Linked DNA regions of Homo sapiens: all the other regions are linked to region 4. Evidence: fine-mapped QTL for protein levels in blood plasma. A gene starts in region 4. Each other region holds a variant in brackets. All regions are shown on one strand. Distances are between the middles of the regions.

Region 1 (6,272 bases), 30 kb before region 4:
ATGCCAAGGTGGGGTGATCACTTGAGGTCAGGAATTTGAGACCAGCCCGGCCAGCATGGTGAAACCCCGTCTCTACTAAAAATACAAAAAATTAGCCTGGCGTGGTAGTGAGCGCCTGTAATCCCAGCTACTCAAGAGGCTGAGGCAGGAAAATCGCTTGAGCCCAGGAGGTGGAGGTTGCGGTGAGCGAGATCGTGCCACTGCAAGCCTAGGCGATAGAGTGAGACTCTGTCTCCAAAAAAAAAAAAAAACAAAACAAAAAAAGGAAAAAGAAAATGAAAGATTGCGTTAGCTATGCTGACTCCACAGTCTCGAAAGGCTGAGTCAGAGGAGCCACCAAGGCTGCTGCCTACAGAGCCTCAGCACCTTCCATTCCTGCTGGACTTGAGTGCTGAGGGCAGGCAAGAGCGCTGGGCAGGGAATCAGCCGCCAGAGTTCTAGTTGGTTCCTGCTCTTTGACCTTGACCAAGGCTCTGCAGGCATTCCTCTGGCTCTGTGTATCCTCACTGCATTCCAGGATCAGCCATGGAGGTCCTGATGAGTGCCAGCATTGTACACTGCCAGGTGGCATCGTCAGAGGTGTTTGAACCAGAGCGATTCCATCTTGAATAGGGGCTAGGCAAAATGAGGCTGAGACCTGCTGGGCTGCATTCCCAGGAGGTTAGGCATTCTTAGTCACAGGATGAGACAGGAGATCGGCATAAGATACAGGTCACAAAGACCTTGCTGATAAAACAGCATGCAGTAAAGAAACCAGCCAAAACCCGCCAAAACCAAGATGGTGACAAAAGTGACCTTTGGTCATCCTCACTGCTCATTATGCGCTGATTATAATACCTTAGCTGCTAACAGACACTCCCACCAGCGTATGACCGTTCACAAATGCCACAGCAATATGCAGAAGTTACCCTGTATGGTCTAAAAAAGGGAGAAACCCTCAGTTCTGGGAAATCCCCACTTCTTTCCCAAAAAACTCATGAATAATCCACCCCTTGTTTAGCATATAATCAAGAAATAAGGCTGGGCGCGGTGGCTCACGCCTATGATCCCAGCACTTTGAGAGGCTGAGGTGGGCGGATCTCCTGGGGTCGAGAAACCCCATCTCTAATAAAAATACAAAATTAGCCGGGCATGGTGGTGCATGCCTGTAATCCCAGCTACTTGGGAAGCTGAGGCAGGAGAATCGCTTGAACCCAGGAGGCGGAGGTTGTGGTGAGCCAAGATCGCACCATTGCACTCCAGCCTGGGCAACAAGAATGAAACTCCGTCTCAAAAAAAAAAGAAAAAAAAAATCAAGAAATAGCTCTTAAGTTTACTCAGTTGAGCAGCCCATGCTGCTGCCCTGCCTGTGTAGTAGCCATTCTTTGATTCCTTTCCTTTCTTAATAACTTGCTTTCATTTTATGGACTTGCCCTGAATTCTTTCTTGCATGGGCTCCAAGGATCGAGACCTCTTTCCAGTAACGGCACAAGCATGGCAGTATAGACGTCACGCACTCCACCCCAGCTCCAGATGGAGAACTGGCTTCCACTTCTGTGCAGGGAGTAAAGCCAGACAGTGGTTCCAGTTCAGTTCTACTGAGTTGTGACTTCATCTCCTTGCCCTGCAGTTTCCTTATCTGTAAAGCTGACATAAAGATATTCCTTATCTCATGGTACGGTTTAGAACTAAATGAAATAATGTGCATAAACTCTTCTCCCTGGCAGGCCAGCTCTCTCCTCTGCAATGTCCAGGGATCCTAGAGCCCATTAGAAACTCAAGATGGTGAGGCCGGCCCCTCCCACAGCTGGTCCCCAGAAGGTCAAGTGCCAGCCACGGCCGCTGGGTACTGGCGACAGGAAGGGTTGGCCCAAAGTGGCTGGCGGAGCTTAATCTGGGGCGGCCCAGGGAGCCTCCTGGCTGGTGGAGGGACAGAGCACCATCATCCGGGCTGGCCTCCGCCCTTAGCTCACCCTACTCTTTGATGTGCAGATGGTGGTGGGGGATGGGGGGCCTTCCTGGCCCCAGGCCTGCCTGCTTCTCACAAGGGGGAAGAGGGCCAAGGGTGATAATAAAACCCAGCTCTCCTTATGCGTCAGGCCATTTGCTAAGTACATGTATCTCCTTCAATCCACACACCAGCCCAACAGCTCTGACACTGCCTCGTTGTGCAGATGAGACCTAGGCTTGGGCATGTGGGTCCCTTGTCTAAGAAACTGAAACCAGACCTGCTGGACTCCATGATTCCAGCCTGCGGAGCTGGCTGTGGGTGTCTGTTGGAGGTGACTCCTAAGGACCCCTGTGGCTGTTCCCGCCTTCTCCCCCTCCTCTCAGCCTTGGATGTTCAACTGGGCCTTGCGGGGCAGAGGCTGAGGGGAGCCTGCCACAGTGGGGCTCCATTTGTCAAGAAATGCTCACCAGGGCCAATGTGTGCGTGGAGCTGCGCTGGTCCCAGGCCTTCTCAGAGTTGGCCCTGACCATCTTCTGCCCCAGGCGATGTGGAGGGCACAGCCCCCACTTTATGAGCCTGGCAAAGCTGTCCCCACCCCATGGTTTGCCTGCTCCTCAGCCCAGCCCATCCCTGTGTGCTGCTCTAGAAAACAACCTCTTTATGCATTGGTACCCACACCCCACTCCACCCTTCCACCACGGAAGACGGTGGGGCGTGCCCTTGGCCAGTGAAGGGTGGCACCAGGTATGGGACCCTGTGCTTGCTGCCTTCACTGCACAGACCTGTCCCGCATTGTCCCAGGTATCCCAGGTGTTCCCGTGGAGCAGGAAGAGGGGCACGGCCAGCACCCTGCACCCTTGCCTCATGTTAAGGAGGGTGCTTCCTGGAGAGCACTCCCTGCGCTCTGCCAGGGCCCCTCTCACCACTCACTGCGGGAGCACTGGGTCCACAGCTCCCCACCACCCAGCAGCTCCAGCTGCCATCAGAATAGGAATAAAAGGAGCCCTGCAAACCACCCAGCTAGCTCAGTCAATAGAGCATGAAAAGGAGCCCGGAGTCCTGCAGGCAGACATGGAGGCACAGGCGCAGGGCACCTGCAGGAAGGGCCGGCAGGCTGGGCACGTCTCCCCTCCTGTGCTCTGGGGTCCCAGACTCCACGGTGCTCCGCATGCACCCAGCTTCCCCCACCCGGCCTCCCCAGCTGCTGTATTGACCCACTCCTGCTTTAGTTTAGTAATGAGTCTCACTCATCTAGAAATCCTTTATTTACATTTTCTCTTAGAAAAAAATATACAGATCTGCTGCCCTGTTGATTCCTCAGATTTAGGGTCTTTAGGGAAAGGTGAAAGAGGGTACAGGGCGGCCCCCAGCAAGGCCGTTCATTGTCCATCGAGAGCTTCTGCTCATCTGGCCCTGGAGCTGGGCT[T/C]CCCTGAGATCAGCCCCAGGGCACTGGGCGACAGGTGCCATGCCAGGCCTAGGGCGGGGTTGGCATGAGGGGCAGGGGCTGGGAGGTGCTCAGGCAGCCTGGGTCATCAGGAACTAGACTGGCTCACAGGCAGAGAGAACGTGGGCTGGAGACTTTGTCCTTGAGGGGAGGACACTGGTGCCTCGGGCTCCAGGAATGGAGGCCCTGCACCAGCCGCTGGGATGGACACATGTGGGCACCTTGCATGGGGGCCGGGTGACTTCAAGGGCTGGGGACTATTTGCTGTTTTCTGTGAACCACTGGAGCACCACCTCCTTGTTCTCCTTCACCCACTTGATGTTGGCTTTCGTCTTCTCCAGGGCTTGCTCCAGGGCCCGGGTGCCTGAGCCGAAGCCTGTTTCCTCGTTGTCCTTCTTGAACTGCTCCAGCTGCCAGAAAAACAAAAGATTCTCAGTCCGGCTGGGTCCCTAACAGCCTTGAGGAGGAGCTCTCTCAGGCCTCTGGCTTTCCACTCCCACTTTAGAGTCCCCATGGATGGGACCACACCCTGTTCCAGGGATAGGCAGGACGTCCACCTTGCTCCCGGGCAAAGTCCTTGTGAACACAGAGGTTGCAAAATGACAATCCCAGGCAAAACCTGGCTCAGGGAGATTCTGGCCTTCAGGTGTAATATTTTATTATAATATCAATCCAATCAAGAGAGTAGAGAGGGGCTAATGAAGCAACCAGCCAAATCTAAAATGTGGAAATTTCTATACCACAAATGATCCAGTTGCTTCAGTAAATAAATGGGTTTAAAAAAAAAATACTCCTACAAATTAGAAGAGTTATCAGTCCTGGAGGTTCTAGCCAGGCAATCAGCCAAGAGAATGAAATGAAAGGAATCCAGAAAGGAAGAAGTAAAACTATGTGTATGACATGTTTGCATACATAAAAATTTTAAGGAATCCATTAAAAAATCTATTAGAACTAATGATTTCTGCAAGGTTGCAGGATACAAGAGCAATACACAAATATCAATTGTATTCCCATACATTAGCAATGAAAAACCTGAAAATGAAATTAAGAAAACAATTCCATTTACGATAGCATCAACAAGAATAAAATATTTAGGAATAAATTTGACAAAATAAGTGCAAGACTGGAATGCCAAAAACTACAAAACATTTTTGAAAGAAATTAAAGAACACCTAAGTAAAAAGAAAAAAGACCCAAATAAATCTGTGTCCATGGACTGGAAGATTTAGCATCATTAAGATGGCAATAGTCCCCATATTGCTCTAGAGATTCAATCCCATCAAAATTTTAACTACTTTTTTTTTTTTTTTTTTGCGGAAATTGATCAGTGATCCTAAAATGCATAAGAAATTGCAAGGGACCCAGAATAGCCAAAACAATATTGAAAAAGAACACAGTTGGCCAGCCTGGGCAAGATGGTGAAACCCTGTCTCTGCAGAAAAATACAGAACATTAGCCGGGCATGGTGGCATGTGCCTATAGTCCCAACTACTCAGGAGGTTGAGGTGGGGGGATCACCTGAGCCTGGGAAGTTGAGGCTGCAGTGAGCTGTGATCTCACCACTGTACTCCAGCCTGGGTGACAGAGTGAGACCCTTTCTCAAAAAAAAAAAAAGCAAATTGGAGGACTCACACTTCCCAATTTTAAAACTCACTACAAAACTATAGTAATCAGGACAGTATGGTACAGGCATAAGGATGCAAATATAGATGAATGAAATAGAATTGAGAATCCAAAAACAAACCCTTATATTTACCGTCAATTGATTTTCAACTAGGTTGCCAAGACCATTCAGTGGGAGAAGAACAGTCTTTTCAACAAATGGGACTTGGACAACCGGATATCCACATGCAAAAGGAATGAAGTTGGACCCCAACCTCATATCATATACAAATATTAAGTCAAAATAGATCAAATGCCTACGTTTGAGTGAAAACATAATAAAACTCTTTTTTTTTTTTTTTTTTTTTTTGAGGCAGAGTCTTGCTCTGTCATCCAGGCTAGAGTGCAGTGGTGCGATCTCAGCTCACTGCAAACTCCGCCTCCCGGGTTCAAGCAATTCTCCTGCCTCAGCCTCCCGAGTAGCTGGGATTACAGGCGCCCGCCACTGCATCCAGCTAATTTTCGTATTTTTTAGTAGGGACGGGGTTTCACCATCTTGGCCAGGCTGGTCTTGAACTCCTGACCTCATGATCCACCTGCCTTGGCCTCCCAAAGTGCTGGGATTACAGGCGTGAGCCGCCATGCCTGGCCAATAAAACTCTTAGAAAAAACATCGTCAGGTCTTTTGTGGGTTTGAAAAATTTTTTTGAAATAAAAAAATAGGTATAAATCTTCATGACCTTGGGTTAGACAATACTTTCTTAGATATGATACATAAAGTATAAGCAACCAAAGGGAAAAAAAACAGATAAATAGGATTTCATCAAGATTTAAAATTTTGGGTATCAAAAGACCTATTAAGTGAGTGAAAAGACAGTCCATAGAATGGGAGAAATACTTGCAAACCCTATCTCTGATTAAGGGTCTAATATTCAGAATATATAAAGAACTCTTACAATAAAAAGACAACCCAATTTTAAAATAGCAAAAGACTGGGCACAGTGGCACATGCCTGTAATCCAAGCTACTCAGAAGGCTGAAGTGGGAGGGTTGCTTGAGCCCAGGAATTTAAGGACAACCTAGGCAACATAGTAAGACCCTCTCTCGAAAAGAAAAATAGTCAGTTTTACCCATTTCTCCAAAGATACACAAATGTGTATAAGGCCAATAAGCACATGAAATATTCAACATCATGTCATTCATTACTCATTAGGGAGATATAACTGAAAACCATAATGATACCACTTCCTACCCACTAGATGACTATACTAAAAAAAGAGGGAAAGAGAGATAAGT
Region 2 (6,272 bases), 41 kb after region 4:
ACTTAAATAACACACTTCCCTCAATCACTCAGTGTCACTGAACTATCATAAGGTTTTGAGGAAGGTGGTGGAGGGGAGTGAGGCATGTCCTTCTCCTTAAGAATCACTGCAGCTGGGGGTATACATCAGCAAGGGAGTTAGTAAAAAATACATTTTTAAATATATCATTAGGAAGGTGTGTAAAGGATAGTCTTAAGGCACAATATAGGAGGCAGAGAGACTAGTAGGAAAAAAGTAAAAATAAAGACAAATTCACCATTTATTGAACTAAGCAATTATTCACTAATTCCGATCCTCAAATAATTGAATGGTGGATATTACTGTATTATATCAAATCTAAGACTTCACTGATTGTAAAACATACTATTTTTATGTGCTACTACAAAAGAAAAATGACATACCATTGATTATAAGAAAAATCTTGATTTGAGATGTTAAAATTATAAATGGTACCCAAAAAGTGAGTCTAAAGAATCAATGAGGGCTGCCACCCCGTCTGGGAAGTGAGGAGTGTCTCTGCCTGGCCGCCCATCGTCTGGGATGTGAGGAGCCCCTCTGCCTGGCTGCCCAGTCTGGAAAGTGAGGAGCGTCTCCGCCCGGCCGCCATCCCATCTAGGAAGTGAGGAGCGCCTCTTCCCAGCCGCCATCACATCTAGGAAGTGAGGAGCGTCTCTGCCCGGCCGCCCATCGTCTGAGATGTGGGGAGCGCCTCTGCCCCGCTGCCCCATCTGGGATGTGAGGAGCGCCTCTGCCCGGCCGAGACCCCGTCTGGGAGGTGAGGAGCGTCTCTGCCCGGCCGCCCCGTCTGAGAAGTGAGGAGACCCTCTGCCTGGCAACCACCCCGTCTGAGAAGTGAGGAGCCCCTCCGCCCGGCAGCTGCCCCGTCTGAGAAGTGAGGAGCCTCTCCGCCCGGCAGCCACCCCATCTGGGAAGTGAGGAGCGTCTCCGCCCGGCAGCCACCCCGTCCGGGAGGGACGTGGGGGGGGGGTCAGCCCCCCGCCCGGCCAGCCGCCCCATCCGGGAGGGAGGTGGGGGGTCAGCCCCCCCGCCCGGCCAGCCGTGCCATCCGGGAGGGAGGTGGGGGGGTCAGCCCCCCGCCTGGCCAGCCATGCCGTCCGGGAGGGAGGTGGGGGGGTCAGCCCCCCGCCCGGCCAGCCGCCCCGTCCGGGAGGTGAGGGGCGCCTCTGCCCGGCCGCCCTACTGGGAAGTGAGGAGACCCTCAGCCCGGCCAGCCACCCCGTCCGGGAGGGAGATGGGGGGGTCAGCCCCCCCACCCGGCCAGCCGCCCCGTCCGGGAGGGAGGTAGGGGGGTCAGCCCCCCGCCTGGCCAGCCGCCCCGTCCGGGAGGGAGGTGGGGGGGTCAGCCCTCCGCCCGGCCAGCCGCCCCGTCCGGGAGGTGAGGGGCGCCTCTGCCCAGCCGCCCCTACTGGGAAGTGAGGAGCCCCTCTGCCCGGCCAGCCGCCCCGTCCGGGAGGGAGGTGGGGGGGGTCAGCCCCCCGCCCGGCCAGCCGCCCCGTCCGGGAGGGAGGTGGGGGGGGTCAGCACCCCCGCCCAGCCAGCCGCCCTGTCCGGGAGGTGAGGGGCGCCTCTGCCCGGCCGCCCCTACTGGGAAGTGAGGAGCCCCTCTGCCCGGCCAGCCGCCCCGTCCGGGAGGGAGGTGGGGGGGTCGGCCCCCCGCCCGGCCAGCCGCCCCGTCCGGGAGGGAGGTGGGGGGGTCGGCCCCCCGCCCGGCCAGCCGCCCCGTCCGGGAGGGAGGTGGGGGGGTCGGCCCCCCGCCCGGCCAGCCGCCCCGTCCGGGAGGGAGGTGGGGGGGTCGGCCCCCCGCCCGGCCAGCCGCCCCGTCCGGGAGGGAGGTGGGGGGGGGGGGGGTTGGCCCCCCTGCCCGGCCAGCCGCCCCGTCCGGGAGGTGAGGGGCACCTCTGCCCGGCCGCCCCTACTGGGAAGTGAGGAGCCCCTCTGCCCGGCCACCACCCCGTCTGGGAGGTGTGCCCAACAGCTCATTGAGAACGGGCCAGGATGACAATGACGGCTTTGTGGAACAGAAAGGCGGGAAAGGTGGGGAAAAGATTGAGAAATCGGATGGTTGCCGTGTCTGTGTAGAAAGAAGTAGACATGGGAGACTTTTCATTTTGTTCTGCACTAAGAAAAATTCCTCTGCCTTGGGATCCTGTTGATCTGTGACCTTACCCCCAACCCTGTGCTCTCTGAAACATGTGCTGTGTCCACTCAGGGTTAAATGGATTAAGGGCGGTGCAAGATGTGCTTTGTTAAACAGATGCTTGAAGGCAGCATGCGCGTTAAGAGTCATCACCAATCCCTAATCTCAAGTAATCAGGGACACAAACACTGCGGAAGGCCACAGGGTCCTCTGCCTAGGAAAACCAGAGACCTTTGTTCACTTGTTTATCTGCTGACCTTCCCTCCACTATTGTCCCATGACCCTGCCAAATCCCCCTCTGTGAGAAACACCCAAGAATTATCAATAAAAGAATAAATTAAAAAAAAAAAAAAAGAATGGACTTTCCCAGGCCAGCTGTGGTGGCTCACGACTGTAATCCCAGCACTGTGGCAGGCCAAGGCGGGCAGATCACCTGAGATCAGGAGTTCAAGACCAGCCTGACCAACACGGAGAAACCCCGTCTCTACTAAAAATAAAAAAAATTAGCTGGGCGTGGTGGTGCATGCCTGTAATCCCAGCTACTTGGGAGGCTGAGGCAGGAGAATTGCTTGAACCCAGGAGGCAGAGGTTGTTGTGAGCTGAGATTGCACCATTGCACTCCAGCCTGGGCAACAAGAGGGAAACTCCATCAGAAAAAAAAAAAAAAAGGACTTTCTCAAAGAAAATGTATTTAAATGTCTGCACCAATAATTCCAGCATGTGTATGAATAAATATGATATGTCCTT[TAAA/T]AAAAAAAAAAAAAAAAAAAAGAATCAATGAAATGTGATATCATCCCTGTTTTACAACTGAAGAAAACTGAGGCACAAAGAGGTCTTTAAGAGGGTTGCATAAATTACACAGTTAGAATCTGGTAGAGTCAGAAGCCCACAAAGGCAATTCATGCAGAATCCCACTTGAGGAACACAGGGTTCCTAGTTCCTCCTGAGTGCACCCAGAGGTTATCTCCCAAGGGAGCAAAGGCAAAGTGAAAAGTGAGCCCACCCCGAAACTAGCCAGTATGCACAAGTCATAACCTTCAAAGGCAAGGTCTAATTAGAATTTGGTTTTAAAAAATGGGCCTTGGCTGGGTGCAGTGGCTCACGCCTGTAATCCTAGCACTTTGGGAGGCTGAGGAGGATGGATCACTCGAGGTCAGGAATTTGAGACCAGGTTGGCCAACATGGCGAAACCCTGTCTCTACTAAAAAATACAAAAATTAGGGCTGGGCGTGGTGGCTCACGCCTGTAATCCCAGCACTTTGGGAGGCCGAGGTGGACAGAGCATGAGGTCAGAAGTTCAAGACTAGCCTGGCCAAGATGGTGCAACCCCGTCTCTACTAAAAAAATACAAAAAATTAGCCAGGCATGGTGGTGCGCACCTGTAATCCCAGCTACTCGGAAGGCTGAGGCAGGAGAATTGCTTGAATCCAGGAGGCAGAGATTGCAGTGAGCCAAGATCACACCACTGCACTCCAGCCTGGATGACAGAGTGAGACTCCATCTCAAAAAAAAAAAAAAAAAAAATATTCGCTGGGCGTGGTGGTGCGCACCTGTAGTCCCAGCTACTCAGGAGGCTGAGGCATGAGAATTGCTTAAACCCGGGAGGCAGAGGTTACAGTGAGCCAAGATCATGCCACTGCACTCCAGCCTGGGCAACAGAGTAAGACTCTGTCTTAAAAAAAAAAAAAAAGAAAAGAAAAGAAAAGAAAAAGAAACCCACAAAATTGGGACACATATCTATTTCACATCAACTAATCAACTCTGACTGTCCTGTATTGTTTGGATAACCAACAAAGTATTACATACTGACACTATTCCAAAGGCGTTTACAATCTACTAGAAACAGTTAGAATTAAAAACTTGAGAGCATGAGCAAGAAGACAAACAGTTTGGAGAACTACAATACCGAAGTTTAGAGAAAGCTTCATCAAAAGTAAAAACTGGGCTGGGGCTGGGCACGGTGGAGGAGAGACAGGGTTTCAACATGTTGGTCAGGCTGGTCTTGAACTCCTGACCTCAAGTGATCCATCCACCTCGGCCTCCCAAAGTGCTGGGATTACAGGTGTGAGCCACCGTGCCTAGTTTATGAGCTTCTTACAGGTAGAAAATTTGAGTTTTATATCTTTGTATCTCTATATTTAGCGCAGTGTCTTTTTCCTAATGAATGCTTAATAAATGATTGTTGTTTGGTAATCAGAGAAAAGACAAAAACACTCTCAGACATCAGTACTTCATCAAGGTCAGAGAGCCAAGGTAAAGACAAATGATTTGCAGAAAGCCTCTAAGGAGGGAGGCACTCGCCTCCCACATATAAAAACCATTTATTCTGTTAAGAAATTTTATTTTAAGTCATCTTAAATTCATTTGGGAAGTATAGAAGATATAAATGCCCAATAATCAGAGAAACTGAAAAGCTGCCATGTGGGATACCTTTCCTAAGATTCAACCATGTTTTCTTCTTATTAGAGCACTCCTCTATTTTTCTGTTACTAAAATTTCTAGCTTCCCTTCTACAAAGTGATAATAAAAATCAAACATTAACTTTTCCTCTAAGAAAATCCATGAAAAAACCATGGTCATCATTGGTAATATTCAACTAGTTCAGGTTCTCCTCCCTCTTGGGCACATAATAGGATCATTTCCCCATCCCTTGGGTGGGAGCATGTGACTGATTTTGATCACTGAAATGTGAGTGTACGAGGATGTGTCACTTCAAGAGCCGGAACACACACATGCCCAGGTAGAAGCATATGTTGAGGAGATTTCCATCAGCCTGGACCTCAGAGGAACTACAGTCAGCAGACACACCACAATGGCCACATAGCACGAGTGAAAAAATAAACCTTGCTCTCATAAGCCATTGGGATTTTGGAGTAATGCATTACCTAGCCTACCTTGATTGATACAAAAATCAAGCCTGGAAAAGGGTTCTTAGTTAGGAATCAAGAGATTCTGCTTTGCTGGGTGTGGTGGCTCACACCTGCAATCCCAGCACTTTGGGAGGCTGAGACAGGCGGATCACCTGAGGTTGGGAGTTTGAGACCAGCCTGATCAACATAGAGAAACTCCGTCTCTACTAAAAAAAAATACAAAACTAGCCGGGTGTGGTGGCGCACGCCTATAATCCCAGCTAGGCAGGAGGCTGATGCAGGAGAATTGCTTGAACCCAGGAGGTGGAGGTTGCAGTGAGCCGAGATCACGTCATTGCACTCCAACCTGGGCAACAAGAGCGAAACTCCATCTCAAAAAAAGAAAGAAAAAGAAAGAAAGAAAGAAAGAAAGAAAGAAAGAAAGAAAGAGAGAGAGAGAGAGAGAGAGAGAGAGAGAGAAAGAAAGAAAGAAAGAAAGAAAGAAAGAAAGAAAGAGAAACTCTACTTCTTATCTTAGAGTAGGCTAATCCTCTTCTGCAATATAAGGAATAATAGCAAGAACAATAAAATTGAATCTCAATTCCAGCCTTTCAGGGTGCCTATAAATCAGCAACCAAAGCAAAATACAATTCGTTTTATCTGCAACATATCCAAGTAATACCATGGGTAATAAGCTTTGTTTACTGACTACAACCTTGACAAACACTAGGTTTTACTGAAAACGGCTGCATATCAAATGAATATCTCTAAAGGTCAAATTGTGCTGTTTTGTGTACACTGTTATTCTACTAACCAGTAATAAGGAATGACTAACACACCAAACTTGAAGCAGCAGGTAATCAATGAGATTGTGCACTGAGGCAATCCAAAGTTCAAGTAAGGAAAGCGAGTGTGTATATGGCAGCAGATATTCAGTATAGTCTGGAACAATCCTTGCTTTTGTTTTTTTCTTTTTTTTTTTCTTTTTTACTTAAAGAGATGGGGTCTCACTTATTGCTCAGGCTGTTCTCAAACTCCTGGGCTCAAGTGATCCTCTCGCCTCAGCCTCCCAAAGTGCTGGGGATTATCGTCGTGAGCCTCCACAACCAGCCCAAGTGTCCTTCCTTCCTTCCTTTCTTCCTTCCTTCCCTCTCTCCTTGCTTCCTTTCTCTTTCTTTCTTTCCTTCTTTCTTTCTTTTTCCCTCCTTCCTTCCTTTTTTTCTTTTCTTTCTTTCCTTTTTTCTTTTCTTTTTCTTCCTTCCTTC
Region 3 (4,405 bases), 24 kb before region 4:
GTTCTGGAATTAGACAGTAGTGATGGTTGTACCACATGGTTTTTTTCTGTTTGTTTGTTTGGTTTGGTTTGGTTTTGGTTTTTTGAGACAGGGTCTTGCTCTGTCACCCAGGCTGGAATGCGGTGGCACCACCTCCGCTCACTGCAACCTCTGCCTTCCTGGTTCAAGCGATCCTCTCACCTCAGTCTCCTGAGTAGCTAGGACTACAGGTATGCACCACCATGCCCAGCTTATTTATTTATTTATTTATTTATTTATTTATTTATTTAGAGATGAGATCTTATGATATTGCCCAGGCTGGTCTCAAACTCCTGGGTTCAAGGGATCCTCCTGCGTTGGCCTCCCAAAGTGCTGGGATTACAGGCATGAAGCACCCCACCCACCCTACCTTGTTAGTTTACTGAAAACCACTTAAAATGGTGAGTTTGATGGTCCATGAATTATATATCAATTTTTTTTTTTTGAGACAGAGTCTCACTCTGTCGCCCAAGCTGGAGTGCAGTGGCACAATCTTGGTTCACTGCAACCTCCGCCTCCTGGATTCAGGCAATTATTCTGCCACAGCCTCCCGAGTAGCTGGGACTACAGGCACCCCCCACCACACCCAGCTAATTTTTGTATTTTTAGTAGAGACAGGGTTTCACCATGTTGGCCACGCTGGTCTGGAACTCCCGACCTCAGGTGATCCACCCACCTTAGCCTCCTAAAGTGCTGGGACTACAGGTGTGAGCCACCACGCCCAGCAAATTATATCTCAATTTTTAAAAAAGACAAACTAACTTAATCCAAGTTGACTTTGTCAAGCTTCTAATTCAAGCATATATATCAATTGTAAAAAGACCTTTTATAAACAACTTAGAAAATTTGAATATGCCTTGGGTATATGATAGTAAGAAGATAATCATTTTCCTGGGTTTGCTAAGGACAGTGTGATTATGTTTTAAGAATCCCTTTATTGCTGGGCGCAGTGGCTCACACCTGTAATCTCAGCACTTTGGGAGACCGAGGTGGGTGGATCACTTGAGGTCAGGAGTTCGAGACCAGCCTGGCCAACATGGTGAAACCTCGTCTCTACTAAAAATACAAAAATTAGCCGGGTGTGGGGGCGCATGCCTGTAATCCCAGCTACTCGGGAAGCTGAGGCAGGAGAATTGATTGAACCCCAGAGGCAGAGGTTGCAGTGAGCCGAGATCATACCACTGCACCACTCCAGCCTGCATGACAGAGCGAGACTCAGTCTCAAAAAAAAAAAAAAGCTGGACGCCGTGGCTCACGCCTGTAATCCCAGCACTTTGGGAGGCCGAGGCAGGCAGATCATGAGGTCAGGAGATCGAGACCATGGTGAAACCCCATCTCTACTAAAAATACAAAAAAATTAGCCAGGCGCGGTGGCGGGCACTTGTAGTCCCAGCTACTCAGGAAGCTGAGGCAGGAGAATGACGTGAACCCGGGAGGCGGAGCTTGCAGTGAGCCCAGATCGCACCACTGCACTCCAGCCTGGGTGACAGAGCAAGACTCCATCTCAAAAAAAAAATAAAAAATAAAAAAAATAAAAGAATGCGTTTATTTTTCATATGACTAAATTATTTAGAGGTAAAATTACATGATCAGTGATTTGCTTAAAAATTGCCCGCCCGGAAAAAGTACTGGCAAAATGTTGATAATTGTTGAACCTGGGTAACGGGTACATGGAGGTTCATTATACCACTCTTCCCTTTTGTGCCTATACAAAAATCCCAAGATGAATTTTTTAAATTGAATTATCAACATTTCCAAAGTCTGGCTACTCGGCTTCCTCTGTAAATGAGGAAGGCCTGGCGGCGTGGAGCCTGTGCTCCCTCAGGGCCACGTGGGAGAAGAATGGAGTGCCCCTTTGGCCTGGGAAGGAAGTAGGCAGAGCCCAGGTCTGGGGAATGACTTCTTACCTGCTGCAGCTCATACTCGGTGGAGAATCGTCGTGTCACTGCCTGGATGAGGTTGGAGAAGGAGAACGAGCCACCACCATAACTGCAGGGAGGGAGAGAGGTGAACTGTGAGGGAGGCCGGGAACTAAGGAGGCTCATCCTCACACCTACTGGGTAGGGAGCCATGATTATAGAGGAGATGAAATGACACGCCCTGGGAGACCCCACTAGGATGTGGGGGAGTCACAGCTTGAACACAGGTCTGACTGCCGAGTTCCTCACTCCCCTCTCTTCTGGAGAATACGCCCACACGCCACGTTTTCCTTCCAAATGGGAAAAGGGACGGCCCATACCCCAGCTTGTCTTTCCATTCCTGCCCCACCCTAGCCCCCAGGCTTGGCTGATTTTTGTCCACTTCTGGTTAGTGCCCCCGGCGTGTCTTACCCGCACAGGCCACCCCCCGGGGCCCCAGCCTCGGCGCTCGCTGTCCCTGACACCCATTCCACAGACTCACTCGTTAAAAAGCTTCTTCCAGTTGCTCTGGACAAAGTCCCAGACCAGACCTTGCCCAATGACGTTGTTGGTAATGCTGATGATGGTAGAGGTGGCGTCCTGCTTCCGGATTAAGTCCGGGTTCAGGGTGTAGCTCAGGTACCTAAGAGGGCCAGATGCTGTCTCAGCTACTGCTAATTCAGGTGACTCAGGAGAGAACTTGGACTGTCCCACGCACATCACCTATGCCTGCATCCTCTCAACATCCCCTCGGCCTGCCAGGGGCTGAGGGACCCCTTGGTCCTTCTTCCCTCTATAGATGGAAAACTGAGTCACCTAAGCAGGGTCACAGGGTCACTGGCTAAGCTAGTGTCATGCCTGACATAGAAATATTTGACAATGAATCAATGAAGGAAGGAGTCCTAGCGCCCCAAGCCCTGGCACCAGGTGGGTGGTCACTCCCGTCTTTGACACTGAGGGTGGCCCTTCTTTTCTTTTCTTTTCTTTTCTCTTTTCTTTTCTTTCGAGACGGAGTCTCACTCTGTCGCCCAGGCTGGAGTGCAGTGGAGCGATTTGGGCTTACTGTAACCTTCGCCTGCCAGGTTCAAGTGATTCTCCTGCCTCAGCCTCCCGGGTAGCTGGGATTACAGGCATGTGCCACCATGCCT[A/T]TTTTTTTTTTTTTTTTGTATTTTTAGTATTTTTAGTAGAGACGGGGTTTCTCCATGTTGGCCAGGCTGGTCTCGAACTCCTGACCTCAGGTGATCCATCCACCTCAGTCTTCCAAAGTGCTGGGATTACAGGTATGAGCCACCACACCCTGCCCAAGGGTGGCTCTTCTTTACTGCATCCAGGTAATGGCATATGAGGCACATGGTGGGAGGTGGGGACCCTCATCCAAGGGCTTGAGGGGGTGCCCAGCTGGATGTTTGAAAAGACCCAGGTCCAGCTACACCAGAGCCTTTGACAGAAGGGAAGACGAGTTGTTGTCAGGTAAAGGCTAAGAGGCCACAGCAGCTAGGAACAGAGGACATGGACCCAGACCTGAGTCCATATCTTGTCTCTATCACTTATTAAAGCTTCCAGTCTGCACCGGTTACTTTGGAAATACTGCCTCCACCTCAACAGGTCTGTGGGGGTCACGTGAAGGATCTGGCGAGGAGTGTGGAGGCCTGCCTGGTTCTCCAGGTGGGGAGAGGGCTCTCGCAGTCCCACCCTGCGCCAAGACTCACCTGTTCAGGATCCACAACTCTTTGCTGCAGGCCAGGGCTGCCCGGAGCTTGTCAGCCTCATTGACCAGTGTGGCATTTCGGAACTGCTCCCAGGCGAAGTCCCACTCCTCCTCCCCGCCCTGGGCGATAGCGTTGCAGTAGACGGTGGACCGCAGGTTGGGGTGGATCCTGGTGTGGGGTAGGGAGGTCAGGTGTGGAACAGCAGCGGGGAGGGTGGGACAGGGTTCTGCTGAGGACGGGGCTGTTGGGGGCAGATGAAGACTGGCAGAGGAGGCGCAGGGGAGACACTCACGGGTTATTATTGGGGTTCTCCATCCACTGCTTGAAAAGGCCAGAGACCATCTCCTCACACTCTGGAACTCCGTTGGAGCAGGCGGTGCTGATGGCATTAACCTCGCTGTACCTGCCCCAGGGGTGACACGCGGTTAGCACACCTGGCGAACTCCAGCCAAGATTCACCTCTTGACACACAACCCCAGGCCGGCACCCTGCCTAAGGCTCTGTGGCCTAACTGGCCCTCTGACCCCCGCTGTATGTGCTTTGTGCCTTGGGCCTGAGGTTCCTTGGTCCCCAAAGCAGCCCTGTGACCCAGAAGGGCAGGAACAGGCTCCAGCCCCAGTTTCAACACCTAGAAACTGTATAACCTCAAGCCAGTGGGGTGAGCTAGAGTTTCAGTTTGGGTCTTTGTATAAAGAGGTCCGATGGGCCCTCAGGCCACATGGAGCCTCAGGGCAGGACCTCCCTGCTCCTGGGTGGGGGTCTCTCCCTGCCTGGTGCCCC
Region 4 (6,272 bases):
TCACAGTGTGGAAGACACCCACACTTGTGGGTGGGGAGAGGCTCCTTGGTCTCAGATGTGAAGTGCAAGAGGCTTTCTACTCTAATATGAAGACTCCAGGAGCCTGGGAGGGGCTGTGGCCGGGAGAGCTGAGCACCCGTGGCCGGGTGAGCTGCTGTGTTATCCATGCTCCATCCCCGACCACTGGGTCCTTGGGTAGGCCCCACCCACTCCCACTCAGTGTCCCTGACTGTGAACTATGAGACTGGGAGCTCAGGGACAACCTGGGGCTCATTGTCTGCTCTGAGGGAGCAGTGAGCGAGAAGGGTAGGGACGAGGCTGGGCCTGGGCCAGGGCACACTCTGTCCCCGCAGGCCCCTGGCTTTCTCCCAGGCTTCTGAGGCCTCCGCCCATAGCTGCATCACCCCAGGGTGCTTCCTCTGGGAGCCTTGGACATTGCCCCTCCTGCAAGAACCTCAGAAGGCCCCAATGGGAAGTTGCCTCTCATCAGCCTCTTCAGCCCAATGCAGGGCACACAGGAGGAAGGAGCAGAGGCATTTGTGGGTGGGGGAAGTACACATAGGGTTTGTGTGGGGCCACAGATCCTGCCTGGCAACTCCTGTCTGCCAAATGGGGGGTGATTATCCTGGTGAGACACATGGTAGGTGAAACTGAGCACCTACTATGTGCCCTACCAGGATAATCACCCCCATTTGGCAAATGAGGACACTGAGGCACAGAAAGGTTAAGTGATTTGCCCAAGGCCACACAGCTAGTTAGCAGCAGGTTCCACAGCTTAACTACATATGCCTCCTAAAAATGTCCTCCCATACAGCCCCTCACATCTACTGTGGCCGTGCCAAGGGGAGTTGAAGACCACAGGAGAAGACACGCACCCATTTGGCCAGACCAGGGCTGGGAGCTGGGGGTAGTTCTCAGAAGTAGAACTTGTTAGCCAGGGAGTGCTGGGGGCTGCTTCCAGACACAGGCCTGTGGAGGACCCACATCTTGCCTCCAAGGTGTGACTGGGACCACTGTAGGGCCAGGAGTGACAGGCACCCGGGGTGAAGCCCGGGCTAGGGATAGATGGCTGCCAGCCTATGTGAATAAGGACACCCCAGGGCCTCGGTGTGCGGCTGACACACTGTCCATGCCATGCCTCCAGGGCTGTCCAGGAGCCCCAGCATAGGGTTCCAGATCTCCCACCAGAGCCAGCCCAGGAACTGGACCCAGTTCCAACACCTTGGCTCCTTCCGACATGGGGACCCCCATCTATGTCCTCAGAATGCCTAGCATACAATTCTTACAGCGATGGGGCTGGAGGCCTTAGCTTAAAGGCTGTAGGGGTGTAAGGAGCGCCAGCGTGTAACGAAGGTCTCATTCCCCAGAAGGCTCTGGGGGAAGCACAGGGCAGGCGGCTGGGCTGCCTCAAGACACTGGGCCGGTTTCCCCACCTGTGAAGCGGGAGCAGCGCTGTGGGTGGCCTCCTTGCACTCATAGTGTGGCCTTCGAGGCTAGGGCTCCACAGGAAGGTGGCTGAGAGTGGATGAGGGCCTCATGGGCCCAGCACACCCTCCCACAGGGAGAGGGGAGTCCACCCTCTTCCCTGCCCAGCTCCCCCATACCCACTGGGGCTAGCCAGCCTTCCTGTGGGACAGAGGCTGTCCCCACTTCCTCCTGGTCACCCCTACCCCACACGCCCACCTCCCCTCCACAAAACACATACCCTGAGGGGCCCTCTGGTCCAAGCCTCCCCTTTCACAGGTGAATTAACTGAGGCCCAGTAAGGCCAGGGCGTTTAGAGACTCAGGGATGAAGCCACATCAGACCTCAGGTCTGGCTGAGACCAGGGCTCTGACCACCCCCGAACACGGCCTGGTGGGTTGCAGTCCAGGGGCTGAGGTGGGGGAGGAGTGGGGATCCAGTCACAAAACCCCAGGACATAGCCCACCTGGGCCGTCCCTGCCCACCGCACTGCTGGGGGGGGGGGGTGCGTTCTGGAGTCATTTGGGGAAAGGATCCCATTGGCCCTGTTTAGGGGACCTTTTCCCAGACCAAGAGTGGATTGCAATGGGGCCCTGGATCTGTCTCAGTTGCTCACCAGGGAGGGCGTGGAATAGGCTCCACAACCCCCAAACCTCGGTCCCCATCCATGCCCCGGCATCTTGGCCGGGTTGTAGGAGCGAGGGAGAACGCGACTGTAACGCGGGCGTTGAGCACCTAGAGTTCCCCTTCCTCTTCACTGAGAGCTGCGGCGGAGGCTTTAGACCGAGGAGCGAGATCTAAGGTTAAAGAAAGGGCCTCTGAGCCCAGTGTTGGCCAGAGACCCCACAGGCGGGCCGGGTTCGCCCTTTGCCTTCGGCCGCGCCCCACCCACCAGGGACAGAGTGGCCGCGGCCGAGCCGGGTCCACCCGCCGCAGCTTAGCTCCGCTCCGCCGCCCTCCCCGTCCGTCCTCCCCAGGCTCCCGTCGCCCTCGCCCACCCTGGGGCCCCCTCCCCAGATGGGAGCCCCTCCGACCCCTGCGAGGCCCGCTGGGGACCCACTTGACCGCGAGATCGTAGTGGGAGCTCGGCCAAAAGAATTCTTCGCTTTCCCTGGCCCTCAGTTTACCCATCTGGGAAGAGGGGCGTCGCGGCCGCAGAAGTCCAGCTCCGCACGCGCCAAGCGCTGGGTCTGCAGCTCCCTCGGTTCCCGCGCACCCAACTGCCCCACGACCCCTACCCGCGCCCGCAGCCCCCGCCCTCCCGCCCCACTTGCCTGGGCCGCCGGGCGCTGGAACCTGGACCCTGGACCCTGGCGGGTTCCGAGCTGCGCCGCCGCCGTCCCTGCCCCTCCAGCACTGGACTCCTCCTTTCCCGTCTTTTTAAAGGGAAGTAACCGGACCCGACCACTACTCCACCCGATTCACCCCTAGCGGGCCGCCCGCCCGCAGCTCCGCCCGGGCTCCTCCCCCGTCCGCCCGCGGCTTCCCGGGAGCCCCCCAGGGCTCCTCCGCTCCTCCGACGGCCCGGCCTTCCCCCCGGGGCCTGGGATGCACCAGGGCTCCTGCTGCCCCCGACGGGGTCCCTGTCGCCGCAGCCCGCGGGACCCGCCGGCCACATCTGGACGGCATCTGCCGCGGGGGAGGGGCTCAGAGCCTCGCCCTGAGTGTCCCGCAGGGAGCCTTGTGCATCCGGGGCAGGAAGCCAGCGCATCCCGTGCAGACGGGTGGTGCAGATAACGGACCCGCCACAGCACGCAATTCAACTTTCTTGGTACCTGGGACTCGTAGTTCAGAAGGCGCAGTAGCACGACCTTGCGAAAAAGCACCGGAGTCGGGAACACGCGCTTCTCATTTTTTTCTTTTTCCTTTATTTGTTTTTGAGACAGAGTCTCGCTCTGTCGCTCACGCTGGAGTGCAGTGGCACTTTCTCCGCTCACTGCAACTTCCTCCTCCTGGGTTCAAGCGATTCTCCTGCCTCAGCCTCCCGAGTAGCTGGGACTACAGGTGCACGCCACCACGCCTGGTTAATTTTTGGAGTTTTAGTAGAGACAGGGTTTCACCATGTAAGGCTCGTCTCGAACTCCTGACCTCAAGTGATCCGCCCGCCTTGGCCTCCCAAAGTGCTGAGATTACAGGAGTGAGCCACCACACCTGGCCTGCGCCTCTCATCTTGATCCTGCTTGCAGAGGTTGTGCAGCCACCGGAGCCCCGCCAGGGTGGGGCTCCCTGTCTCTGAGCAGCTTTAATGGGCGGTACCAGATAATATTTGTATTGGTTCCCTGTGGCTGCCGTAACACAAACATAAAACAACACTAATTTACTATCTTACAAGTTTTGTAAAATCAGAAGTCCAAAATGGGTCTCGCTGGACTAAAAGCAAGGGGGTTGAGGGATACAGCTTTCTTGAGGCTGGAAGGGAACCTGTTTCTTTGGCTTTTCTGGCTTCTAGAAGCTGCCCACATTCCTTGGCTGGTGGCCCCATCCATCTTCAAAGCCAGCAGTGGCCCACCAGTCTCTCACAATCTGTCACTCTGACACCAACTGTTCTGCCTCTTGCTTCCACTGGTGAGCATCTTTGTGATTACATCGGGCCTACCCAGATAATCCAGGGTAATCTTTCTATTTTAAATCAATGGATTGGCAACTTGAATTCCACCTGCAACTGTAATTTCCCTTCGTGGGGTAGCATAACATATTCACAGATTCTGGGCATTAGAACCAGGGCATCTTTTGAGGAGGAGGATATGATTATGTCTACCACAATATTCAAGCTGACTTCCAGACTTTCAGATTTATAATCAAATTTAAGCTCTTCCTTATCCATGATTGGAATCCTTGGGACAGTTAAAGCCTTGCACTGCATGGTCCAAATTGATGGCTTTGTGACTGGCTGTGTTTTATTATTTTACTTGCACTTGCTCTTCTTTTGGAAACTTCATGGAGGACCAGGGTACCTCTAGGTAGCAGCCTTGCTTCTCCTTCCTAATTTGCTCTGTACTCTTAAAAACCAGGTCACAAACATATCGGAATATAGAATTGTGTGTAAAGTAAGAGTAAGTAGGCTGTGAGTGAGACCTCAGAGGCTATTTTGTTTTTTTTCTCTCTCCAGTCTCATGCATGTCTGACTCTCTCCACTATCATATCTGGCATAATCTCCTCCATGTCTGACAAGCCAAGGAAAACACTACATCAGGCCAGGAGAGAATCTTCCCCCCGGAGCTCTGCCTCTCCCACCCAGGCTCCGCGGAGATTTTAAGAGGAGTAAAGATCCTGCTGTGGCAGAAGTGCAACCCAGCTTTCTGGAGGGCAGTTTGGGGTTAGGAATGAAGATCACTTTCAGAAATTTAGCCTGAAGAGGCTGGGCGTGGTGGCTCATGCCTGTAAGGCAGGTGGATCACTTGAGGTCGGGAATTCAAGGCCAGCCTGGGCAACCTGGTGAAACTGTGTCTGTACTAAAACACAAAAATCAGCCAGGTGTGGTGGCGCATGCCTGTGGTCCCACCTACTTGGGAGGCTGAGGCACGAGAATCGCTTGAACCTGGGAGGCAGAGGCTTCAGTGAGCTGAGATCACATGACTGCACTCCAGCCTCGACTACAGAGCAAGACTGTCTCAAAAAAATAAATAAATTTAGCCTAAGGAAATAGAATATTTATATGCAAGGCTTTTCACTGCAGTATTACTTATAATACTGGAAAATCAGAAATAGCCTAAGTGGGCTGGGCGTGGTGGCTCATGCTTGTAATCCCAGCACTTTGGGAGGCCAAGGCAGGCAGATTACGAGGTCAGGAGTTCGAGACCAGCCTGGCCAATGCAGTGAAACCCTGTCTCTACTAAAAATACAAAAATTGGGTGGGCATGGTGGTGGGTGCCTGTAATCCCAGCTACTGGGGAGGTTGAGGCAGGAGAATCGCTTGAACCCGGGAGGTGGAGGTTGCAGTGAGCCGAGATTGCGCCACTACACTCCAGCCTGGGTAACAGAGAGAGACTCTGTCCACCCCCTGTGAAAAAAAAGATGAAGAGACAGTGCTTGCTCCTGCAGAAAGAAAATTCATGGGCTCATAAACATGTAAAAAGATGTTCAATAACTCACTTATTAAGAAAATGAAAATTATAACTACAAAAGATACTATTCTTCACTTACCAGATCAGCAAAGATAAAAAGCAGTTTGGTAGGTCAGGCACAGTGGCTCATGTCTGTAATTCCAGCACTTTGGGAGGCTGAGGCAGGAGAATCACTTAAAACCAGGTGTTCGAGACCAGCCTGGGCCACGTGGCAAAACCCTGTCTCTACCAAAAAAAAAAAATTAGCCAGGCGTGGTGGCACGTGCCTGTAGTCCCAGCTACTTGGAAGAATGAGGTGGGAGGATTGCTTGAGCCTGAAAAGTCAAGGCTGCAGTGAGCCATGATCGTGTCACTGCACTCCAGCCAGAGCGATAGAGTGAGTCCCTGTCTCAAAAAAAAAAAAAAAAGTTTGGTAACACACTATTCGCAAGGGTGGGAGGAAAACAGGCAACCCCCTGCATTGCTGGTTGGTGTGTAGACTGACTCGACCTCAAAAGAGAATATTTGGGCAGTATTTATCAAACATATAAACACATGTCCTGTTTGACTTGGCACTTCCAGAAATTTATCCTACAGATAATGCTCACACGTAAGTGAAAGGAATACACAAGGCTTTCCACTGCATCGCTGCAACATTGAGCCAAAACCACAATGACTTTTGCACCAATCTAATAGCTGGAGACAACCTAAATGTCCACCAATAGAGATGGGATAAATGAATGATTATTGTATGCCCTGCAATGG
Region 5 (6,272 bases), 13 kb before region 4:
CCAGGTGCCATGGCTCATGCCTGTAATCCCAGCACTTTGGGAAGCCGAGGTGGGTGGATCACAAGGTCAGGAGTGCGAGACCAGCCTGACCAACATGGTGAAACCCCATCTCTACTAAAAATACAAAAATTAGCTGGGCATGGTGGTGCACACCTGTAATCCCAGCAACTCGGGAGGCTGAGGCAGAGAATCGCTTGAACCTGGGAGGTGGAGGCTGCAGTGAGCTGAGATCGCGCCACTGTACTCCAACCTGGGCAACAGAGCGAGACTCCGTCTCAAAACAAACAAACAAACAAACAAACAAACAAAAACAAAAACAAAAAGCTTGGTGCTGTGGAGTAGAGGATGGCTTTGGAGTTGGACAAGCCTCTGTCTGGCTGTCATGAACTACTGTGTGACTTCGGGCAAGGTGTCACATTCTTCATCTGTGAAATGGGTGTGTGGGGACCCAGGGAGGGACGTCCAGGGAGCACAGGAGCTCAGGGCACAGCACGTGGCATATGGGAAGGGCAGCAGGAGGAGCAGGGGCCCTCATTGTGGACTCAGACTTGCTGAAGTCACGAGCTTCTGCAGCTGAGCCAGGCAGCGGAGCACTCACCTGGCCAGGTTGAAGGCGTCATTAATGATCTGTGCCCGATTGATGACAGGGATGGCCTAGAATGCGAAGCACAGCATGTGACCATGGGTTGGCTGTGGGTGGCAGGCCTTGCAGTCTGGTGCCTGTCCTGGGGCAGGGGGCAGGGCGAGGGGTGGCAGACACTCACCGAGTGGTCTCTCTGCAGCTGAGTCTGAATCTTCCTCCAGTTCTCTTCGTCGTAGTTCACCCGGTAATAGCCCGTCACATTGAGGTTCAGCAGGACCCACTCATTGCCTGATGTGCTGAAGAGATCGTTCTGGGCTGTGGAGAGGGACGAGACCTGGGCAGGGCTGCTCAGAGGCCATGGGCTGACCCCTGGACCTCTTGCAAGAGCAGCTGCCCCCGCAGCCTGGCACCACCTCACCCTCAAGCTGCTGGGGAGACGCTAAGGGTGGGGAAGGAAGGGATGAGGAACTGGGCTGCCAGTGGCTTCACAGACCATCAACCCATGAAGATGACATGCCACCCCAAACCTCAGAACCTGCCCTGCCTCCCTAGGCTCTGCACGGCCAGGCCAGCTGCCAGGCCGCTCACACTCAGCAATCCAGGCTGTTCCTCCTCCTTGCCCTCCTCCACACTCCATCACACCTGTCACCCAAGTGGGAACCACAGGCAGCTCCTCCTCTCCCTTCCCCTCCCATTCACCCAGACCCCCAGTGCTGCTGTCTCTTTCTGGGGCTTAGTGCCCCTTCCTCCCTGTGGGTCCCCCTCCTCCCTCACTCCTCTCATACTTTGTTTCAGCAGCCAGAGGTCAGGGCCAATAGGTTGCTCATTTCCCACCTGCCCCATCCACTGTCTCCTGCAGCCCCTGGGGCCCTTGGGGACCAGCTTTATCTCTTGGGCACACCTCTGCCCTAGCTACACTCAGTCCCCACACTCTCTCCTACCTCTATCCCTGGCACTTGCTATTCCCTTTGCCTGGAATTCTTTTCTCTGCCACATTAGCCTGTCTGATTCCTACTCTTCCTCTAAGACTCAGCTCACCTCCTCCGGGAAGCCCTCCCTGACCTCTCCATGAACTTGAATCTCCCTTATTCCCTGCTCCATGTCCCCATACCTCACTAGCCCCAACCATACACTCTGAAAGCACTCAGCACAGCACTAGAATGCCTCCAACTTCTTGCCTTCCTTCATCTGTAGCCTTGGCCAAGGCAAAGGATGACTTGTCATGCCCTTCGCTTCTTCAGTGCCTTGCTGAGTAGGGCTGCTCATAACATGTGCCAGGCACTACTTTAAGCATTTTATGTGGATTCTCTCCTTTTTTTTTTTTTTTTTTTTTTGAGACAGAGTTTCGCTCTTGTTGCCCAGGCTGGAGTGCAATGGTGCGATCTTGGCTCACTGCAACCTCTGCCTCCCAGGTTCAAGCAATTCTCCTGCCCCAGCCTCCAGAGTAGCTGGGATTACAGGCATGCACCACCACACCTGGCTAATTTTGTATTTTTAGTAGAAATGGGGTTTCTCCATGTTTGTCAGGCTGGTCTCGAACTCCTGACCCCAGGTCGCCTCGGCCTCCCAAAGTGCTGGGATTACAGGCATGAGCCACCATGCCTGGCCTAGGATTCTCTCCTTTAATCCTCACATAACTAATGGAGTATTGCTCTTAGCCTCATTTTATAGAAGAGGAACTAGAGACCAGAGCGGGATGGTAACTTGCCCAGAGTCACACAGCGAAGCAGCAGCAAAGTGGAGATTGGAACCAAAGAAGTCAAGTCCATTTGTTGAATGGAATGGCCCATCACAGCCCTCAGAACATGGGCCAGGAGCTAGGAGTATGGGGTGGGGGCTGCTGCCCATAAGGCAGGGCTGGATTACCTCTTACATCTATCAGCCAGTAGTCCTGCTGCTGTCTGCCATCTCTGATGGATGTGATGGGCACAATCCACACGTAGCTGCAATTAAAGATCCAGAGGTGGTGAGAGATGGCGGTGTGGTCACTGCCAGTGAGGAGCAGCTGCCCAGGCTCCCAGCTTCTGCCCAGCTCTGGCACCGAGTGCCCCTGAACTCCTGGCTCTGGAGGGAGGGTCTGTCTACAGTGGCTGGGGCTGGGACCACAGGAGGCCAGTCCTACTATGGTCCCTTAGTAACTGCCCTCTACCCCACCCACCTGACCATGCCTCAGTGACCCCATCTGCTCACTTGAATTCTGAGGGGCGGGTAACATTGGAATCGGGGTCAAGGAGGAAGTGCTCCTGGGAAAGGGTCCCCGTGCTGGTATCCACCGTGATGACCGGGAAGCCCATCTGCAGGGTCCAGCGGTTCATGATGTCCCGCACGGTGGTGGGGAGTTGGATGGACCGGTTGTTCACAGCCTGTGGGTGGAGCGAGAGGGCGTGGCCATCAGTGGGACCCTCCAGTCCCTGCCATCCAGGGCATCTCCTGCAGATTCTCGCCTCGACCCCGGGGGGCCACTTGTATGGGAGGCCTGGGAAGGGCACTGGGCTGGGAGCCGGGAGCCAGGGTACCGTCCAGCTCTGCCTCTCCTCGGCTGCTCAGTGCTGGACGAGCTGGAGAACTTCCCAGCAAATCTATGAGGCCCTCCATTCTGTGGTCCACCCTGAGGTGTGTATGTCAGGGAGGGGGTGCCCAGGATGCCCATGGCTCTTCCTGAACAACACTGGGAGGAGGACAAGAAAGAGGAGACAGAGATGAGAGAAAGCCAGTGTTCAGGTGTCACAGGCAGGGGTGGGGGACGGGGCCCTGGGGGTCGCATGAGGGAAGTGCACTCGGACTGGGGTGTGGGGCGGGACTCAGGGGCACTGTTGTTGTCTTCTTGTCTTCTTGGATCTTTGCTCATGCACCTGCCTT[G/A]CCTTTGTCATCACAACAGAAAGCCAACCCCATTTGTTAATAACTGAAGAAAGGAATCACCTAAGAACGGGGCCACACAGAGGGCAGAAGAGCATGTGGGGAGGAACCAGCTGGGGGCTGCCGGCCGAGGGTCTCAGGAAAGAGGAGTGAGAGGGAGGAGAGCTTGGCTTAGGAGGGAACGCAAAGGGGAAGTTGGGGCAGGGCAAGGAAGGTAGTGGGGGAGACCCAGGCAATGACAGTGTCATTTTGTCAGCAGCATCTTGGGGTCTAGGGGGTTGGAAATTGCCCAGCAGGGACCCGGACCTCAGCTGTGACTCTGTGACAAGATCCTGGGTCTCGCTTCCCTGGTGAGACAGGCCTGGACTGGAAGTGCAGCAGCAACAGTGGGGTAGAAGCTGGACGGGAATTTGAGGCTCGGAACTCTGGAGGGGCTGTCGGTGAGGAGAGGACATGTCTGTCCTCTGGCTTAAGACGCTAGCATTGGGCAGAGCTGCAGGGAAGGGGTAGGGGGCAGCTGTCAGGGAAATGATGTCAGCGGAAATGATGGGGGCAGGATGGAGAGGAGGTGGACTCCAACCCTGGGGGAGGGAGAGGAGCGGCGGCCTCTGGGGGAAGGCAGGAGGGTGTGGCAGTCTGGGGATCTGCCCTACAAACAGGGGCTGTGCGGGGTCTGATGGAGAGGAACTCGAGCCGGGGCAGGGGCAGAGGGCAGAGTTCCTGCTGAGGGTGGTGGAGCTGTGTGCAGAGACATGCCCGTGGCGCCAGCGGGGGGCACAGGGCAGCCAGGAGTGGGGAGAAGGTTGAATGTCAGGCTCCAGAGTTCCAGGCAGAGGCGGGAACCATGAGGGCAGTTTCCTCACCACCAGGAAGGGGCTCTACAGCTCCCATCAAGAAGCCCGCTGTAGCCTGAGGTCAGCTGCTGGCCAGGACCTCAACCACAGCCTCACTCAGACACCTCTTGCAAGGAGCCATCCCGGCTTCCACTATAGGGAGGAGCAACAGAGGCTCCATCCACCCTGCAGGGCTGGTCAGCCGCGGAGCTGGACCCATTCTCTTACGCATGTGCTGCCCCCAGGTACCTTCAGCATCTCAAGACCCCAACAGGATGGCTGTGGAGGGGCTGGCTGCTACTGACCTCCTGCAGGTGGTCCCACAGGTTCAGGTAGATGGTGTTCTGGTAGGCAAAGGTGTGGAGGTAGGACTGTGGAAAGACGGGGCACAGTGAGAGCACAGCTGGAGCCCCCCAGGCTCCCCCTCTGTGGTGGGCAGAGGCCCGGGTCAAGGGCGAGGGGCAGAAGGAGACCCACCCTCATGGCTGGCCCAGGGTGCAGTACTCACCGCCAGGCCCTGCTTGAATACGTCCTCGGACAGGAAGCTGGAGAGCATCCTGAGGACTGAGGCGCCCTGGGGTGGGGGTGAGGGGGCGCTCAGAAGGCTGTGCAGAGCCACCAGGACCCTGTGCCCCCAGACCCTGCCTTCAGTGAGGCCCCTCCAGGCCAAGTCCCCACCTCCTTCCCCGTGCCCCACGAGGAGCGGGCTGCACCTTGCTGTAGGAGATGGCGTCAAACAGCTCACTGATCTGGGCCGGCGTGTTGATCTCCGAGGCGGGTGTGGACAGCGGGTGGGAGGAGGCCAGTGCATCCACTGCCATCACGCGGTACACATCATTCAGCACCATGAGGTCTTTCTGCAAATTCCCCAGGGCCATCAGGAGACTGGCCTGGTAGCGGTGGCCCAGGTCTCCCTCCATGCCCCCCGCACCAGACCCCTGGGCAGCTGGCTTACCAAGTTCCAGGTGGGCTCCGCATAGTCAGCACCCAGGTACTCCACGTAGGAGGCGAAGCCCTCGTTCAGCCACAGGTCATTCCACCACTCTATGGTCACCAGGTTCCCGAACCACTGTGGGGGGAGGGGTCAGCTGGGCAAGCCACGCCCAGGCTGGGCACTGAGAATCCCCAGAACTACCCTCCCCAGGGCTGGCCATCTGCCAGGCACAGTGGGGATTTCAACACCATCGTGACCCCTTCCTGCTGCCCTGCCAGGCGGCACCCTCCTCCCTTCTCAGCAGCCCGGGGCAGAGCCTGGACTTGCGCCGTCTCCTCTCGGAGCCCCTGTTTCCTTCTCCGCACTCCCCGAGATGGGGGTCTACCTGGTGGGCCAGCTCATGAGCAATCACAGTGACCACCCGCTCCTTGTTGCTGCTGGAGGAGGACAGGGGGTCGAACAGCAGGGAGTTCTCCCGGTAGGTCACCAGTCCCCAGTTCTCCATGGCGCCGGCGTTGAAGTCTGGCAGGCCAATCTGGTCTGGGGAGGCGATGCCATTGGCAGGATGAACTCCGGGAGTGGAGCTCCATCCACTGCCTCCCTCCTCAAGGACCCCCACTCACCTGATTTTGGGAGTGGGTAGGGTGTGTCATAATGACCAGCAAAGAAGTTAAGGATGGGGCCCGTCACGTTCAGGGCATAATCGCCGTGGCCCGCCGCAATGGCACTGGGCCGGGCCCAGATCCGGATCTGCAAGGTGTGAGGAAGAAGCAGACCAGGGGCTCCTGTTTGATCCTGGGGCAGGTGGGCTGGGTCCCAGGGCCCAGTGGGCTGGGGGGATCCCTGATGGGCCAGGGCTGGAGGCCAATCAAGCTAAACCTAGAGGCCTGGTCAGCAGAGGGGAACGCTACTGGGGTCTGGAGGCTGTGGGTCCTAGAGAAGGGCCTTTGGAGAATAACAATCATCATAGCCACCGTCTGTCTGGTAACCGGTGGGTCAGGAACTCCCTTCATGAAGAGAAACCATTGTTTTCATTTTTCAGGTGCAGAAATGGAGAACCAGAGAA

Which allele goes with the higher level. Positions count from the first base shown, and alleles are read on the strand shown. Strength reflects both the effect of a copy and how common the allele is.
For the plasma level of the protein whose gene starts at base 2,819 in region 4, allele T in region 1 goes with a lower level than allele C (strong association).
With allele T in place of TAAA in region 2, the plasma level of the protein whose gene starts at base 2,819 in region 4 is lower (moderate association).
With allele T in place of A in region 3, the plasma level of the protein whose gene starts at base 2,819 in region 4 is lower (moderate association).
In carriers of allele G in region 5, the plasma level of the protein whose gene starts at base 2,819 in region 4 tends to be higher than with A alone (moderate association).

Evidence for each region. PIP is the posterior inclusion probability: the model's chance that the variant is causal. Protein levels are from antibody-based Olink assays in UK Biobank. Linkage for the fine-mapping came from a reference panel and not from the study's own genotypes, which makes the PIPs less certain.
Region 1: its variant is fine-mapped to the plasma level of the ANPEP protein (UK Biobank, PIP above 0.99).
Region 2: its variant is fine-mapped to the plasma level of the ANPEP protein (UK Biobank, PIP above 0.99).
Region 3: its variant is fine-mapped to the plasma level of the ANPEP protein (UK Biobank, PIP 0.99).
Region 5: its variant is fine-mapped to the plasma level of the ANPEP protein (UK Biobank, PIP 0.99).

What each region holds. Positions count from the first base shown.
Region 1 is chr15:89,781,718-89,787,989 of GRCh38, forward strand. ANPEP (alanyl aminopeptidase, membrane) reads right to left here. Exons shown (of 21, transcript NM_001150.3): 21 at 3,178-3,784. The coding sequence ends at 3,632. Among named protein-coding and RNA genes, the nearest start is that of MESP2, 8.5 kb to the left of the region's middle. RefSeq lists enhancers at 221-280, 1,345-2,007, 2,008-2,669, 2,670-3,332. The variant T/C (reference allele first, on the strand shown) is at 3,357.
Region 2 is chr15:89,853,040-89,859,311 of GRCh38, forward strand. The region is part of intron 8 of ARPIN-AP3S2 (ARPIN-AP3S2 readthrough); the gene reads right to left. The region is part of intron 4 of AP3S2 (adaptor related protein complex 3 subunit sigma 2); the gene reads right to left. Among named protein-coding and RNA genes, the nearest start is that of MIR5094, 5.5 kb to the left of the region's middle. The variant TAAA/T (reference allele first, on the strand shown) is at 2,906.
Region 3 is chr15:89,788,535-89,792,939 of GRCh38, forward strand. ANPEP (alanyl aminopeptidase, membrane) reads right to left here. Exons shown (of 21, transcript NM_001150.3): 17 at 3,918-4,028; 18 at 3,626-3,793; 19 at 2,419-2,559; 20 at 1,926-2,007. Among named protein-coding and RNA genes, the nearest start is that of MESP2, 14 kb to the left of the region's middle. RefSeq lists an enhancer at 3,753-4,253. The variant A/T (reference allele first, on the strand shown) is at 3,065.
Region 4 is chr15:89,812,034-89,818,305 of GRCh38, forward strand. ANPEP (alanyl aminopeptidase, membrane) reads right to left here and starts at 2,819. Exons shown (of 21, transcript NM_001150.3): 1 at 2,739-2,819. RefSeq lists an enhancer at 2,388-2,887, promoters at 2,755-3,909, 2,755-3,243 and cis regulatory regions at 2,858-2,863, 3,115-3,243, 3,151-3,154, 3,153-3,182, 3,200-3,202.
Region 5 is chr15:89,798,662-89,804,933 of GRCh38, forward strand. ANPEP (alanyl aminopeptidase, membrane) reads right to left here. Exons shown (of 21, transcript NM_001150.3): 5 at 5,830-5,956; 6 at 5,592-5,746; 7 at 5,228-5,341; 8 at 4,986-5,129; 9 at 4,781-4,846; 10 at 4,578-4,643; 11 at 2,774-2,946; 12 at 2,450-2,526; 13 at 765-898; 14 at 599-654. Among named protein-coding and RNA genes, the nearest start is that of ANPEP, 13 kb to the right of the region's middle. RefSeq lists an enhancer at 5,277-6,272. The variant G/A (reference allele first, on the strand shown) is at 3,443.